2 separate regions of the Homo sapiens genome follow, and region 2 is linked to region 1. The links come from fine-mapping of genetic effects on gene expression. A gene starts in region 1. The other region holds a variant in brackets. All regions are shown on one strand. Distances are between the middles of the regions.

What was found.
Region 2: its variant is fine-mapped to the expression of JUND in whole blood (TOPMed, PIP above 0.99).

The regions. Positions count from the first base shown.
Region 1 is chr19:18,280,631-18,283,528 of GRCh38, reverse strand. It overlaps JUND (JunD proto-oncogene, AP-1 transcription factor subunit), which reads left to right and starts at 1,907. Exons shown (of 1, transcript NM_005354.6): 1 at 1,907-2,898. The coding sequence starts at 2,045. It overlaps MIR3188 (microRNA 3188), which reads right to left and starts at 1,452; the gene lies at 1,368-1,452. It overlaps LOC124904652 (a long non-coding RNA gene), which reads right to left and starts at 1,437. Exons shown (of 2, transcript XR_007067154.1): 1 at 399-1,437. RefSeq lists a silencer at 1,429-2,428 and an enhancer at 1,922-2,773.
Region 2 is chr19:18,020,485-18,023,382 of GRCh38, reverse strand. No RefSeq gene overlaps it. Among named protein-coding and RNA genes, the nearest start is that of ARRDC2, 14 kb to the right of the region's middle. RefSeq lists enhancers at 646-1,195, 1,670-1,719. The variant C/G (reference allele first, on the strand shown) is at 1,618.

The DNA of each region.
Region 1 (2,898 bases):
AAAAGGAGTAACGCATGCCCACTGGCCAGGCAGACAAACTGAGGCTAGAGACCACCCACACAAGCAACCTTTTGTTGCATTCACCTTTATTTTTTATTTTTTTTTGAGACTGGAGTCTCACTCTGTCTCCCAGGCTGGAGTGCAGTGGCACAATCTCAGCTCACTGCAACCTCTGCCTCCCGGGTTCAAGCGATTCTCATGTCTCAGCCTCCTGAGTAGCTGGGATTACAGGTGCACACCACCACACCCGGTTAATTTTCGTATTTTTTTTTTTTTTTGTATTTTTGTATTTCGGCCAGTCTGGTCTTGAACTGCTGACCTCAAGTGATCTGCCTGCCTCGGCCTCCCAAAGTGCTGGGATTACAGGCATGAGCCACCACACCCAGCCCCGCATTCACCTTTAATACTGAGCATCCATTCTATGCGAGGCCCTGTCAGCAGGCTCAGCATAGGCAATGTCCCTGACCTTCAGGGACTATGGTCCACTCCATCATTCTGGCAGATTCAGAGGCTACAATAAAGGAGTAAAGTCTGAGGGTGGGGCACTTCCTGAAGACACATCTTTGCACTGGGGGAAGGGAGTACCAAGCAGAGAGCATAGCACGTGCAAAGGCCCAGAGGTACGATTAGTCCTGCAACTGGGAGGCCAAGGATCAGAGAGAGTGAGGGGAAGGAGGTCAGGGAAAGGAGGGTGTGGGCTCCATTCAGACAGAGGTGGGGAGCTGGAGGGGTGCATGCAGAGGCTGTAGGTCAGATCCAGATGTCCTAAGGATCCCTTGTGAGTATTGGTGGGGTGGGTCCATCTCTCCTCCCTCACACCCCCTTCCCAGCCAGTCTTAATAGTGGCTCATTAAGCCCTAACAGCCATGATAGTGGTAACAAGCATGTAATAATTATACCCGGCATTCCTGCCTCATCAGCCCAGCCCCTGGAGTTGGGCACCCTCGCCCAGGACATCACAGCCCTGGCAGACCTGGGGTTAAAACGTGGGCGGCGGAAGGAAGGGGCTGCGCAGGGGCCTGGACTCCCAGGTTCTAGGGTTCTAAGGGTGGACAAGAGCTCAGGCCTAGTCACAGCCCGGGCCCTGCTGTGACTCCTAGCTAACTCTCGGGGGATGGTCACTCCACCTCTCTGAGCCCAGTTTCCCATCTGTAAAGGCAGGAAGTAGGACTCCTGGTTCTAGAACGCACTCAGTGAAAATGATCAGGATCCAAGCGCTTTCAGCAACTTCTGGCGACCCTCCTCTCCCCTCCCGTCTCTTCCTGAGCAATCACACGCGGGGTGGAGGGAGGGAGGGAAGGAAGGAGGGAGGGTGAGGAACGCAGACCTCCCCACACCCCCGGCGAGCCCCCGGACACAGCCCCACCAGGCCTCCAGCCCCGTATCCGCACAAAGCCTCTCCAGAAGGCGCGCTAGGGGAGGCCCTGGCGGCACAGCAGAGCAGGAGGCGCCAAGGAGTTATTTAGCCATGCGGGACCCCATCCCCCTCCAGTCCCCGGAGGCCGGCACCGCCCCCGCCCCCGCCCCCGCCCGGCCGGGGCCCCACGCGCGGACACGGGGCGGGGCCTCGGGGCGGGCGGGCGCCTGGTGGCCCGGGCCCATCACGCCACCCGGGACGTGCCTTGGCGGAGGCGGCGCCGGGGAGATCGGTCGTACACAGCGGTCCCGGGGCGGGGTGACCCGGCCCGGGCGCGCGGCCGCCCCCATGACGTCAACCCACAAGGCAGCGCGCTGTTGTGGCGTTTACCGCGCGTCGCCGGGGCAACGGCGGCCGGGCGGGCGTCGGCGGCTTGGCCCCGCCCCTCCATGCAAATGAGCGACGTCACCCGCACCCAATGGCGAACGGGGGCGGTGAGCTCATCGCGCCGAGCCGAGGCTATAAGAGGGCGCACAAGTGGCGCGGCGCAGGAGCCGCCGCCAGTGGAGGGCCGGGCGCTGCGGCCGCGGCCGGGGCGGGCGCAGGGCCGAGCGGACGGGGGGGCGCGGGCCCCCCGGGAGGCCGCGGCCACTCCCCCCCGGGCCGGCGCGGCGGGGGAGGCGGAGGATGGAAACACCCTTCTACGGCGATGAGGCGCTGAGCGGCCTGGGCGGCGGCGCCAGTGGCAGCGGCGGCAGCTTCGCGTCCCCGGGCCGCTTGTTCCCCGGGGCGCCCCCGACGGCCGCGGCCGGCAGCATGATGAAGAAGGACGCGCTGACGCTGAGCCTGAGTGAGCAGGTGGCGGCAGCGCTCAAGCCTGCGGCCGCGCCGCCTCCTACCCCCCTGCGCGCCGACGGCGCCCCCAGCGCGGCACCCCCCGACGGCCTGCTCGCCTCTCCCGACCTGGGGCTGCTGAAGCTGGCCTCCCCCGAGCTCGAGCGCCTCATCATCCAGTCCAACGGGCTGGTCACCACCACGCCGACGAGCTCACAGTTCCTCTACCCCAAGGTGGCGGCCAGCGAGGAGCAGGAGTTCGCCGAGGGCTTCGTCAAGGCCCTGGAGGATTTACACAAGCAGAACCAGCTCGGCGCGGGCGCGGCCGCTGCCGCCGCCGCCGCCGCCGCCGGGGGGCCCTCGGGCACGGCCACGGGCTCCGCGCCCCCCGGCGAGCTGGCCCCGGCGGCGGCCGCGCCCGAAGCGCCTGTCTACGCGAACCTGAGCAGCTACGCGGGCGGCGCCGGGGGCGCGGGGGGCGCCGCGACGGTCGCCTTCGCTGCCGAACCTGTGCCCTTCCCGCCGCCGCCACCCCCAGGCGCGTTGGGGCCGCCGCGCCTGGCTGCGCTCAAGGACGAGCCACAGACGGTGCCCGACGTGCCGAGCTTCGGCGAGAGCCCGCCGTTGTCGCCCATCGACATGGACACGCAGGAGCGCATCAAGGCGGAGCGCAAGCGGCTGCGCAACCGCATCGCCGCCTCCAAGTG
Region 2 (2,898 bases), 260 kb after region 1:
GCTTGTAGGTGGGAGAATTGAGCACAGAGACAAATAAACACATTTAAACCGGGCACGGTGGCTCACGTCTGTAATCCCAGCACTTTGGGAGGCTGAGGCGGGCAGCTCACTTGAGGTCAGGAGTTCAAGACCAGCGTGGCCAACATGGTGAAACCCCGTCTCTATTAAAATACAAAAATTAGCCGGGCGTGGTGGCAGGCACCTTTAATCCCAGCTACTCAGGAGGCTGAGGCAGAAGAATCACTTGAACCTGGGAGGCGGAGGATGCAGTGAGCCAAGATCGTGCCACTGCACTCTAGCCTGGGCAATAGAGTGAGACTCCATCTAAAAAAATAAATAAATAGTCACGCGCAGTGGCTCACGCCTGTAATCCCAGCACTTTGGGAGGCCAAGGCGGGTGGATCACCTGAGGTCAGGAGTTCAAGATCAGCTTGGCCAACATGGTGAAACCCCGTCTCTACTAAAAATACAAAAAATTAGGTGGGCGTGGTGGCGTGCGCCTGTAATCCCAGCTACTCAGGAGACTGAGACAGGAGAATCGCTTGAACCCGGGAGGCGGAGGTTGCAGTGAGCCAAGATTGCGCCACTGCACTCCAGCCTGGGCAACAAGAGCAAAACTCCGTCTCAATAAACAAATAAACACATTTGCAGATGCCTCTCTATGCTCCAGCCCCATGGGGCCACTGGGGTGGCTGAGGACACGCCTAGCTCCCACCTGCCTGCTGTGGTTGCACAGGCTGTTCCCTCTGCTTGAAATGCCTTTCCCTAGTTCCTCTTCATCCATCAAAGCCCCAGCTCCAATGTCCTCTCTTTCTGCAAGGCCTCTCAGGACCCTCCAGCCTTCAGCCTTCCCTCTGGTTCCACCCTGACTCCACAGGGATCTGAGGTTGTGTGAGTCCTGCTCTGATCTTCACCAGTGTCCTTGGGACTCTGATCCACTGCCATCATCATGCGTCCAAGATGGTTTTCCTTACTTCTAGGCCTTCTTCCAGGGAGTCTCCAAACTCGTAGCATGATTGGCTCAGGCAGGATCACGTGCCCAGCCCTGACCCAATCCCTGTGCCTGTGATAACAAAAGGCTCCAATTGGCCAAGTGTGGTCACATGACCACACAGGAAACCAGGAAGTGGATCTGGGTCTCAGAAAGTGGGGCAGGGAGCCGGGCACTGTGGCTCACGCCTGTAATCCCAGCACTTTGGCAGGCCGAGGTGGGCAGATCACCTGAGGTCAGGAGTTTGAGACCAGCCTGGCCAACATGGTGAAACCCCATCTCTACTAAAAATACAAAAATTACCTGGGCATAGGGACAGGCGCCGGTAATCCCAGCTACTTGGGAGGCTGAGGCAGGAGGCGGAGATTGCAGTCAGCTGAGATCATGCCACTGCATTCCAGCCTGACGGACAGAGTGAGACCCTGTCTCCAAAAAAAAAAAAAAAAAAAAGGGCAGGGCAGGTAGACATTCCTCCAGACCCCTGTGTTAAGGACTTAGGGATCCCCTTGCCTGTACCATCTTGGCTGGTGGGCCTTGGCGAAGTCACTTGTTCCCTGTGTCTCAGTTTCCCCACTTGTCAATCAGGCCCAGCAGGGTTGAAGTGTTGGAGCACAGGGGGATCCATC[C/G]CCTCTCTGATCATTCTTGGGCTGAGTCCTTTTTACCCCGCACCCACGCCCTCATCTTTTATTGTTGTTTTCTGTGGATCCTCCCAGATCGGGCCGCGCAGTCCACCCAGCCCAGCGTGGCAGGCACTGATGGCCACCGGCTGAGTCACCATTTCCTCCTGGCCCCTTGCCCGGGCCCAGTGCTTTCTGGGGACTTTCCTGAACATCAAAAACAAGGTGGGGGGTGGGGGGGTGACTCCCGGGTGAGGGAAGCTAGGGCAGACACGCGTGTGTTTGGATAGGTTTGTGCATACCCTGGCGTGGGTTCAAAGCCCATGTCTGGGCCCCACCTGTAGGATCCAGGCCATAACCGCATCCTCCTAGGAGTTGGGGTACTCCACATGTGAGCACCTGGTGAACACTCTGTGCCCGGCTGCTTGTGCCCGAGTTCACTGGCTGGTGTTTCTATGTTGCTGACAGGCTTATGTGTGTGCGTGTGTGTTTGCACGTGTGTGTGTACATCATGACTGCCCTGTGCCTGGAGCCCAGCGACAGAGAGGCCCAGCCCCTCGCTCAAAAGGTGCATCTGAACTCCAGCCGCCCCTGCCCCTCAATGCACCCAGCTCCTCGCTCAGAAAGGTGGATCTGGTGGAGATAACTCCCTGGGCCAAGGCAGGGGGGCTTGGGAAATCCTGCTGCATTAGGGTGCAGGGGTGGCGGAGGCAGGGTGAGGCAGAGGTGGGGTGGTCAGAACTGTGGATCCACATGGATGAGCCTGGGCGGGCTGAGCTTTGGGAGGAATAGATGTCAATTGTAAAAACCTTCACTAAGCCACCTACTGTGTGTTCAGGGTGCTGGGACACAGTGGGGACCTGGTGTAATAGACACCACATCAACAAACAAGTGAATATGTAACCCCAGGGACATGGGGAGGACCAGGAAATTAAATGCACTGGGGCAGCAGGAGGGGAATTTGGGGTGCCCGGGCCTAGGGACAGAGGGGACTTGCTGAGAAGGTGATGTGAGGTCTCAGATGTGCAGGCGGAGGAGGTCTTGGGGAGATCTAGGGAGACAGAGTGCCAGGTGGAAGGTATGGCTGGTGCAAAGGCCCTGAGGTGGGCACGAACTGGCAGAGGGGCTTTGGCTTCATTCAGGAAGGTCTAACCCCACAGCAGGATGGGGAGCCATCAGGAGGTTGTGCTGGTGGGGCCACCAGGACAAGCTGTCCTGTAACTGGAGCTCAGCAGGAATGCGTCCCCCTCCCACCCCCACCCCCACCCCATCTCTGGCGCTCTTTGCTTG